Linked DNA regions of Homo sapiens. The protein of the gene in region 1 purifies or fractionates together with the protein of each later gene. This does not show direct contact. Each region holds a gene or a part of one and is shown in the gene's direction. Other genes may lie near its edges. The genes, in order: RPAIN, OXSR1 and PDXDC1.

Evidence for each region.
Region 2: the proteins of RPAIN (region 1) and OXSR1 purify together in Homo sapiens (affinity purification with mass spectrometry; one large-scale study listed by BioGRID and IntAct). This does not show direct contact.
Region 3: the proteins of RPAIN (region 1) and PDXDC1 purify together in Homo sapiens (affinity purification with mass spectrometry; one large-scale study listed by BioGRID and IntAct). This does not show direct contact.

What each region holds. Positions count from the first base shown.
Region 1 is NC_000017.11:5,426,659-5,430,309, forward strand, and holds part of RPAIN (RPA-interacting protein), read left to right. Parts: intron 1-1,412; coding exon 1,413-1,553; coding exon of another isoform or gene 1,554-1,619; exon of another isoform or gene 1,620-3,003; intron 3,004-3,651. UniProt on the Homo sapiens protein: Mediates the import of RPA complex into the nucleus, possibly via some interaction with importin beta.
Region 2 is NC_000003.12:38,168,473-38,172,123, forward strand, and holds part of OXSR1 (serine/threonine-protein kinase OSR1), read left to right. Parts: intron 1-3,651. UniProt on the Homo sapiens protein: Effector serine/threonine-protein kinase component of the WNK-SPAK/OSR1 kinase cascade, which is involved in various processes, such as ion transport, response to hypertonic stress and blood pressure.
Region 3 is NC_000016.10:15,030,512-15,034,162, forward strand, and holds part of PDXDC1 (pyridoxal-dependent decarboxylase domain-containing protein 1), read left to right. Parts: intron 1-1,223; coding exon 1,224-1,395; intron 1,396-2,349; coding exon 2,350-2,468; intron 2,469-2,766; coding exon 2,767-2,888; intron 2,889-3,651.

The sequences.
Region 1 (3,651 bases):
GAGACGGAGTCTCACTCTGTTGCCCAGGCTGGAGTACAGTGGCGTGATTTAGGCTCACTGCAACCTCTGCCTTGCGGGTTCAAGTCATTCTCCTGCCTCAGCCTCCCAAGTAGCTGGGATTACAGGTGCCTGCCACCACGCCCGGCTAATTTTTTTTTTATTTTTAGTAGAGATGGGTTTTCACCATCTTGGCCAGGCTGGTCTCGAACTCCTGACTTCGTGATCCACCCACTTCAGCCTTCCAAAGTGCTGGGATTACAGGTGTGAGCCACCACGCCCGGCCTTCAGTAATCTTAAAATACAGAAAAAGCCCTTTTATCTGGCATGATGGGGACTGCAAGTTTGCCAGTTAATTGAGCGATTGGTTAAAGAGGCAAATTATAAAAATAAAATGTTTTATGGTAAGTTTCAAACACATAAATTTATTTGCCAGCCTTTGAGTGGGGCCCTGCTGATTGGAGAGCTGAGTCACCTGTTTTATTTTTTATTTTATTTGAGACAGAGTCTCACTCTGTCACCCAGGCTGGAGTGCAGTGGTGTGATCTCTGCTCACTGCAACCTCCACCTCCCGAGTTCAAGCGAATCTCCTGCCTCAGCCTCTTGAGTAGCTGGGATTACAGGCACGTGCCACCATGCCTGGCTAATTTTTGTATTTTTAGTAGAGACGGGGTTTCACCATGTTGGTCACGCTGGTCTCGAACTCCTGACTTCAGGTGATCTGCCCACCTTGGCCTCCCAAAGTGTTGGGATTACAAGCGTGAGCCACTGTGCCTCGCTGAGTCACCTTTTTTACATAAACAACTTCTATAATACATAGTCCAGAGTTTCCGGTTTTAATTCCATAAAGTGGATCAAGAAACTGAGTATACAACTTAGGAATTTTTCCTCCCCATCTTTTACCTAATTCTATAGCTCTTTTTCTTTCTTTCTTTTTTTTTTAAGCAGCTCATCTGTTTGTTTCCTAAACATTCTACTTATCACTATAAAAATAAAACTTATTATTTACATAATAAGTAATTAGCATTACTGAGTTACAGTAGGAAGTTCAAGTAACCCAAGCAGACCCGGGAGCATATACTGCTAGTTGTTGGTAAGGATGCACTCAGCTGGTGGGGGCAGAGGCAGAGGGAGGCTGGAAAGTAGCCTACAATCTCTGAGCGTTCTTCCTGCCATGAGTGGCCATCAGTGTGTTTGACAGCAGGAGTAGAGGGCGTTGGTTAATCTGGAGAGGCAGTTAAATGGAGATGGGTTAAGAGATCTTGGTACAGTCATGGGCCCGAGTGTCTTTAAGGCTCCAAGGAGTCAAGCCATCACAGTGAGCCACGGTTATATTGGTTGGCATGAGGAATGAGGATTTTCCATCTGTTGGCTATCAAGTCACTGAGAGGAGGTTGAACTTTTTTATTTTGTAGTCTTCTGAGTTGACAGAGCAGAAGCTTCGTGCCTGTTTAGAGGGTAGTATAAATGAGCACAGTGCACATTGTCCCCACACACCTGAATTTTCAGTCACTGGAGGAACAGAAGAAAAGTCCAGTCTTCTCATGAGCTGTCTGGTAAGCGTCTCCTGGGACCCACTCTGTGGTAAGAGGGACCTGTGGTTGGTTTTATTCCCACCTTGATAGAAATAATGACCTATAAACAGGTAAATGTTTAATGCAGTTTATTATCTGAGGAATTTACCTGCATAGAAAAGTGAAGGTAACAAGTCATTTAGACTCAAAGGCCAGTCAGAAAGAAGGGAAGAGGCAGCATGGGATCACGGCAAGAGGATTGGTCTGGGAGTTAGGACGCCTGGCTCCACACCTGCTCTTCTTTGATCAGTAGTAGTGGTTTTGGATTCAGCTGGTCATTTCATAGTCATAAGACCCAGATAGGCCATGCTGGCACCACTTTTGCGGAAGGAAACAGGGCAGAAGCATAGCAGGGCAGCATTAGGTTTGTCTGTCAGTGGAGTTTTTACAGAGGTCCAAGGGCTATTCGCTAACCTGAGTGACAACTGAGGTGTGAGGGCCAGGAACACAAGTGGGTAAGGGAACCACCTGTCTTAGAAGCGTGCTATAGGAACCAATATCTCTTATAATCCATGTCCTTTCCATATATGTGTATGTATGTATGTACATGTGTATATATATCACACAAACACACATAAAACCAATATGATACGTATTATTATTGCTTTTAGATCCCAGGCAGGGGGAGCCTTGGGATTAGGAGCACACTGTACTTCAGGAAGTTCATAGCCATGGCTTTCTACTGGGAATTTAGAATTCCTTCATGGCCCTGTCATTCCAAATGCAGTTAACCTACAGAGGTCATTTTTATTATAAGCAGCATTGCCTGGTAACAGCCATTTCACCTTTATCAAGTTTCTTCCATAGGTATTCTACTCATTCATTAAAAAAAAAATGAATTGAGGACTCATTAACATTGAGAAATACACATCTCTCACAGAGCTCAAGCCTTGGGTTGGTAATAAGAGAACAGAATAAACAGGCAGTACCCTGGAGAGCTGTACAAGGAGGGCTTATGGGAGTTCAGAGGAGGGTGATCTCCTTTATGGTGACACCTTCCTGGAGGAGGCATTTAACTTGGCCTTGAAGCATGGAATCGATCTGGACAGACATGGAGATCTGGTGAGTTGTGGGGGTAGAGCTTAAGTGGAAGATCCCCACATAGAAGAACAAGGCAGAGAAGCAGGAAACTGGAGTATATACAAAGAGCATCTTGTTCTACTTAGCTGGAGCATTAGGTTCATGAGGGAGAGGATAGTTCCTGTTAGGAATAGGAAACAGATTCAGAGAAGTGATGTAATCTGGCCAAAATTTTACTACTAATAAGCGATAGAGCTGGTGTTAGACCCCAGGTCTTTGTGGTTCCAGTGCCCCTGCTGTTTCCTGCTCCAGGCTCAGGCCTTGGTGGAAGGATGCCATTTTCCATCAGCTTGTATGGAAAGAGACATAGCAGGTGAAAGTTTAAATAAAACCCCTCACTACTTCCTGTTGACTACAAGCATATGTTCCCTTCTGTTCCAGCTATCCAGCACTGGTAGCAGATGCTCAAATATGCAGTGCTTTCAGGCCTCTGTGCTGTTGTTTAGGCTGTTCTGTCTGAATGACTTTGACTCCTCCCACTACATTTAAGGATCATTTGCACAAATATTTACCAAGCACTACAATATGCCGTGTACTTCATTCAGCCTGATTCCTCACAAGGAATTGGCCAGTCTCAGCTGGCCACGGTGGCTCACGCCTGTAATCCCAGCACTTTGGGAGGCCGAGGTGGGCAGATCACCTGAGGTCAGGAGTTTAAGACCAGCCTGGCCAACATGGTGAAACCCCATCTTTACTAAAAATACAAAACTTAGCTGGACATGGTGGTGGGTGCCTGTAATCTCAGCTACTCGGGAGGCTGGGGCAGGAGAATCGCTTGAACCCGGGAGGCGGAGGTTGCAGTGAGCTGAGATCGTGCTGCTGGATTCCAGCCTGGGCAACAGGGTGAGATTCTGTCTCAAAAACAGAATTGGTGGCTGAGTGCGGTGGCTCACGCCTGTAATCCCCACACTTTGGGAGGCTGAGGCGGTCGGATCATCTGAGGTCAGGAGTTCAAGACCAGCCTGGCCAATATGATGAAACCCTGTCTCTACTAAAAATA
Region 2 (3,651 bases), on another chromosome or scaffold:
TTCCACTTAGCATAAATATTTTTTCATTTAAAAAAACAATTTTGAGATATAATTTACGTACCATAAGATTTACCTGATTAAAATGTACAATTCAATAATCTTTTAGTAAATTTACATAATTGTTCAGTCATCACCACAATCCAATTTTAGAACATTTCCATCATTCCAGAAAGATGCCTCATGTCCATTTGCAGTTACTCCCTGTTCCCACCCCCAGCCCCAGGCAATCACAAATATACTTTCTGTCTCTATAGATTTGTCCTTTCTGGACATTTTATGTAAATGTAATCATATAATATGTGGTCCTTTGTGTTTGGCTTCTTTTACTTTCCATAATGCTTTTTGAGGTTCATCCATCTGCCATGTAGTACATGGTTCCTTTTTATTGGATACCAGTTAATGGGCATTGGATTGTTTCTGCTTTTTGGCTGTTTGGAACAAGGCTGCTTTGAGTATTCACATCAAGTCACCCCATGAATATGTTTCATTTTTCTTGGATGTATACCCAGGAGTGGAATTGCTGGGTTATATCACAAATTCAACTGTTTAAGAAACTGCCAAACTGATTTTCAAAGTAACTGTACCATTTTATGTTCCTACTAGTAATTATAAGAGTTCTTGTTTCTCTAAATTTGTTGTCTTTTTGCGTGTAACCATCCTAGTGACTATGAAGTGGTATCTCATTGTGGTTTTGATTTGCATTGCCCTAATGACTAATGATGATGAACATCCTTTCATGTCCTTATTTATTAGACTTTCATGGATCTTCTTTGGTGAAATATCTATTCAAATCTTTTGTCCACTTGGACTGCCCATTGGGTTGTTTTTTTTTTTGTTTGTTTGTTTGTTTTGAGATGGAGTCTTGCTCTGTTGCCCAGGCTGGGGTGCAGTGGTGCCATCTCGGCTCACTGCAACCTCTGTCTCTTGAGTTCAAGCAACTCTCCTGCCTCAGCCTCCTGAGTAGCTGGGGTTATAGGTGCCTGCCACCATGCCCAGCTAATTTTTGTGTTTTTAGTAATGATGGGGTTTCACCATATTGGGCAGGCTGGTCTCAAACTCCTGACCTCAGGTGATCCGCCTGCTTGGCCTCCCAAAGTGCTGGGATTACAGGGGTGAGCCACTGCGCCTGGCTGTTCGTTTTTTTTTTGAGTTATAGAAGTGTGTGTATGTGTGTTTGTATGTGTATTCATTCTGGGTATGCGTCGTTCATCTGATATATGATTTAATTTAAATATTTTCCTGTCTGTAGTTTTTTTTTTCTTCTCATTTTCTTTCTTTTTTTTTGAGACAGTCTTACTCTGTCACCTAGGGTGGAGTGCAGTGTCATGATCAGGGCTCACTCCACCTCCTGGGCTCAAGTGATCCTCCCACCCCTGCCTCCCAGGTAGCTGGGACTACAGGTACATGCCACCACGTTTGGCTAATTTTTGTGTTTTTTGTAGAAACTGGGTTTCGCCACATTTCCCAGGATGGTCTCAAATTCCTGATCGCTCAAGCGATCTGCCTGCCTCAGCCTTCCAGAGTGCTAGGATTACAGGCGTGAGCCACTGCGCTTAGCCTTCTTTAATTTTATTATTATTATTTTTTTTTGAGTTGGAGTCTTACTCTGTCGCCCAGGCTGGAGTGCAGTGGCATGATCTTGGCTCACTGCAACCTCCGCTTCCTGGGTTCAAGCAATTCTCCTGTCTCAGCCTCCCAAGTAGGTGGGATTACACATGCGTGCCACCACACCAGGCTAAGTTTTTGTATTTTTAGTAGAGACTGGGTTTCACCATGTTGGCCAGGCTGGTCTCGAACTCCTTACCTCAGATGATCTGCCTGCCTCGGCCTCCCAAAGTGTTGGGGTTACAGGTGTGAGCCCCCGCGCCTGGCCTCTTTCATTTTCTTAATGGAGTCTTTTAAAGTACAAAAGTTTTGAATTTTGATGTTTATCATTTTTTTCTTTTATTGATTTTGCTTTTGGTGTTGTATCTAAGAAATCTTTACTAACCCAACATTGTGAAGATTTTTTTTTCCTGTTTTTTTTTAAGTGTTAGTTTTAGCTCTTGCATTTAAGCCTCTGATACATACTGAGTTAATTTTTGTGTATGGTGTGAAGTAAGGTGAACCACCTTGTTTTACAGTTGAAGACACAGAGACAGAAAGGTAACATGACTGCTTAAAGCCATGTAGCTAATTAGAGGCAGAGCCAATACTGGCATCTGTGTCTCCTGTAGCCTAATTCGGGATCCTTGTTCCTGTATCTACATTGATTCGTTCTTGGATATAAACTGGAAGATGGGGGTCATTGTCTCACAGATTAAGGGAATGATCTCCCCTGCTTTTTTCTGAGAAGGGTCTCACTCTGTCACCCAGGCTGGAATGTAATCACAGCTCACTGTCTCACTGTATGAACTCCTGGCTCGAGTGATCCTCTTGCCTCGTCCTCCCCAGTAGCTGGACTACAGGCATGTGCCACCATGCCCGCCTCATTGTTTTATTTTTTTGTAGAGACAGGGTCTCATATGTTGTCCAGGCTGGTCTCTACTTCTGGGCTCAAGTGATCCTCCCACCTTAGCCTCCTAAAGTGTTGGGGTTTACAGGTATGAAGCACTGTGCCTGGCCAAGGGAAGTATCTATCCTTAGAGTGAAAAAAATCTGATGGATGTTCCACACCTGTCACGTCCTTCCAGTCTGCTCCTGACAGCCTCTCTCCATTTTCCCAACAGGGAGAAAAAAAATTTTTTTTCTTTGAGCTACAGCCTAGTATAAGTAGCAAGTTTCAGTAAAGCATTGTATTCTTATTCTAACTTTGCTTCCATACCAAAATGTTTGTTACATAGTATTTTATAATAAGCTATAGTCTTCAAAATGAATCTTTATGATTTCAGATTACACTCAACTTTTTCAGGAAACACATGATTAAAATCTAGAAAAAAGGGTTTGGGATCATTTAAATTTTGTTTTCAAAGGATTGTATTCTAGAGAAATCAGTGTAATGGTGTCATCTCCATCAAAACACGTACATTTATTTGAACTGTAACATGTTTATTTGAACTGTAATTTTTTTCACATTTGCTTCTCAGCAGTATACTATTTATGGGATTGTTTCTCACATTCTGTTTTGTTCTTCGTCTTTCTGGTAAAATCCTACAGAGAACAGAATCTCCTCTTAGGAACATATTAAAAGCCTATAGATTGAAAATTCAAAGGACTTTTTTTTTTTTTTAAAGAATTGTATCACCTTAAGCATGCTTTGGCAAGATTTGAAGTTCTTTAAGTATGATTATGTGTAAAAGATGTTAGTATCATTCTCACAATTAATCATTGATCTTTCAGTATTTTTGAGCCCTTAGTCTTAGATTAGAATTTCTGAGCATGTGTTATACTGTATTTGGCATGTGTTGAAGCAGCTGTAAAAATTTGGGCTTTGGGGTTAGACTGACCCAGATTCAAATCCTGACATTGCCTCTTACTAGTTATGTGATCTTAGACAAATTATATGATTAGTTTCCGTGTCAGCTTTTTGTCTGTATAGTGGGGAGAATAGTACCTATGTCACTGGGGCCGTTATATAGATTGAGTGTAATTATTTGTGGGAAGTGTTTAGCTTGTATAAAATGATAGTTGTTATTATCTCTGACTTTTTTTTACCCTTCCCCTTGTCCTCAT
Region 3 (3,651 bases), on another chromosome or scaffold:
CTCCAGCCTGGGGGACAGAGGAGACTCCATCTCAAAAAAAAAAAAAAAAAAAAAAAAAGTCATCACATGAATTCCTTTTTTGTTGTTGTTGAGACAGGGTCTTGCTCTGTCACCCAGGCTGGAGTGCAGTGGTGCGATCATGGCTCACTGCAGCCTTGACCTCCTGGGCTCAAGTGATCTTCCCACCTCAGCCCCCGAGGAGTTGGGACCACAGGCATGAGCCACCACACTGGACTAATTTTTGCATTTTTTGTAGAAATGGGGTTTTGCCACGTTGGCCAGGCTGGAATTCCTATATTTTGATGTCTTGTGACTCTCGATTTTCCACTACAAGGGTTCTCACTCCCCACTGCACATTAGAGTCATCCGGGAGCTTTACACACAACCAGTGGCCGCCCACCCCCAGAGATTCTAGAATGGAGCCTGGGGATCTGTGTTTTGGTTTTTATTTTTTTTTTAGAAACAGGGTCTCATTTGTCACCCTGGCTGGAATGCAGTGTCTTCACCATAGCTCATTGCAACCTCGACCTCCTGGGCTCAAGCAATCCCCTGCCTCAGCCTCCCAAGGAGCTGGGACTACAGGCGAGCACCACCACATCTATTTTTTTTTTTTTTTTTTTTTTTCCATAGAGACGTGGTCTCACTCTGTCACCCAGGCTGCTCTTGAACTCCTGGCCTTAAGTGATCCTCCTGGCTCAGATTCCCAAAGCACTGGCCACTATAAGGATTGCCTGGCCACAGCTCTAGATACTTAGTCTCTAAAACTGCAAAAGTAAGCCAGTGAGCCCTGAGGCCCGGCGCTGTCACCATCTCCCTGTCCTTCCTGTGTGGGGACAGCAGCCCACCACAGTACTTCCCTTTCTCTCAGTCATAGGAATGTACAGAATCTGTGGTTGCCTTTTTGTGCTGAACCTATGGTGTGATGTCTCCAGCCTGCCTGAAGTAGGCTTGCTGTGGGAAGAGTGATTTCTAACACTGGAGTATGTCATTGTGGGCCACATCTGTGAGAGAAACACTCCACACCTGCTACAGCCAGCTGTGTCTGTTTCTAACCCTAATTCTTCCATATCTGTGTTGAGGGCCTTTTTTTGTTTAAATCTCCATGGCTCCCGGTAACTGGAGTACCTCGAGCTTTTGACCTTCCCAGTAGTGGAAGAGGGAGCCCTGCCCTCTTGTCATTGGCCATCTCGTGAGCATTTCTCTGACATTGTGAACATCTTCAGTTTTAGGAACTCGGGGAGAGGATGTGGATCAGCTCGTAGCCTGCATAGAAAGCAAACTGCCAGTGCTGTGCTGTACGCTCCAGTTGCGTGAAGAGTTCAAGCAGGAAGTGGAAGCAACAGCAGGTCTCCTATATGTTGATGACCCTAACTGGTCTGGAATAGGGGTTGTCAGGTAAAGTCTTGGCCTGCCGCTTGATGTTGGAGACTTTTCTGTATAAAGAACATGAGTGGGTCATTTTCTGAACCACCTTAGAAATCCAAGATGAACGTGTAGTCACAATATGCTTAACGAAAATGCAACTCGGTTTTCTGGGCATTTACAAAAGCACAGTGCAAGCAGGCAATTTGGCCAGCGTGGCGCTCAGGGAGGGGAGTTGCTGAATGTTCTGTCTGTAGGTGCCGACTCTCAGCTACCTAGGAGAAGATGCCAACAGGTATATATCACTCACTGAGAATGGTTACTATCCAGGGCATATAGAGAATTGCAAATCAGTAAGAAAAAGAACCCAGCTCTCGGGGAGAGAACTGGGTGCAGTCCTATGGCTGCTTTCTCGCCTTCAGAGGTGAGGCAAACCTCTTTTTGTATTGCCCATGAGACTTCCAGACCTTGTATGGAACTAAAGACTTAGGCTTTCAGCTGGGCACGGTGGCTCATGCCTGTAATCCCAGCACTTTGGGAGGCCAACAGGAGCATAGATGACTTGAGGCCAGGAGCTTGAGTCCAGCCTGGACAACATGGCGAAACCCCATCTCTAGAAAAAATACAAAAATTAGCCAGAGGTGGTGGTGCACACCTGTAGTCCCAGCTACTCGGGAAGCTTAGATGGAAGGATCAACTGAGCCCAGGAGGTGGAGGTTGCAGTGAGCCAAGATCATGCCACTGCACCCCAGCCTGGGCCACCAAGTGAGACCCTGCTTTAAAAAAAAAAAAAAAAGGCTTTCCTGTGACTTTCTCTTTACTCCTGGCACACTTCCAGAAAGTTTGTGGTCTGGAGACACTCGCAGTAGCTCTTTTGCCCACTGGTTCCACTGCATTGTCTTGCTAATATTTAGAGGTTTCTAATCCTGTATCAGAAGAGACATTTGATCTTTTAAGCTGAAATGCTGTGGTTTGATGTTGTTTTAGGTATGAACATGCTAATGATGATAAGAGCAGTTTGAAATCAGATCCCGAAGGGGAAAACATCCATGCTGGACTCCTGAAGAAGTTAAATGAACTGGAATCTGACCTAACCTTTAAAATAGGTAACTGCTTACTTTGTAAGTCAGCTGTGGGGTTTGGAAGGACACTTGGTAACCGGCTTTGAAGACGACGGCTCATCCCTTAGCGGGCTAGCGCCTCTCGGGCTGGGTTCCAGGCGAAGATGCGGTTCTGAGACCTCCCTCCCCTTCTGCAGCCTTGCCAGGCCTTTCTCTCCGCCCTTAGAATCTCCATGGAGGAGACCCCTTTGTGTGTGGTCAGGACCCTGAACAGGAGAGTAGGTCCACGTCTCACCCATGACAGAGGACTGAGAAACTCAAGTTTGTCTCGTTACCTTTGCAGGCCCTGAGTATAAGAGCATGAAGAGCTGCCTTTATGTCGGCATGGCGAGCGACAACGTCGATGCTGCTGAGCTCGTGGAGACCATTGCGGCCACAGCCCGGGAGATAGAGGAGAACTCGAGGGTCCGTAGCACCCATCAGTGTTCATTCCTCTTCTGAGTTTTGTCCCACCAAACAGCAGGGGCCACGAGGAAAGCAGCTGCCCTTGGGATGTCTGTTCGTTGTCTCTCAAAGTCTGTCAATGTTTCCTGTAAGCTGGGCCTTGTGCCAGGTGTCAGAGATGCCAAGTAGGTTTGACACAGCCCATGCCCCAGTGATCTCACAAGCTCAGGGGGAAAGATCCACATAGCCACGCTGTGTAGTAACCCTGCCTTAGAGAAGAGGGCGGGTAGCTGGACACTCAGGCAGACACATTCACCCCTGCCACCAAGGTCAGGGAGGACTTCTGCTCTGGAGCTGTGTCCTGAGGGTGAATGAAATGGGCTGTTGTATGTGTGGTTCCCCCTACACCCCTTCCCTATAGCACTTCCCACCAGGAATAGACCTACTGCTGTGGGTCCCTTAGCATGGAGGACCAGGATACAAGGCTGATAAGGTATCCTCCAAACAGATGATTACTTCCCTAAAAATCACTCAAAAGGAGAGAAGAGGGACCAAGGTAAGACTGCTCTGAAAGGAGAGAGACACGAGCCATTGGACATGCGGCCGAGAAGCCAGCTTCATTCCTTTCTGGGTGGACTCCTTAAGGTTTCTTTCCAGCCTGACTTTATGACTTCTCTGTTTTCAAGAATACGTAGCAAATGAGGCTGGTCACCAAGGTGTGTCTGCCTAGGCCTCTATGAGCATGTTATCTGCTTGTCTTTGAGTTTCTGTTCGTTTTACGCCG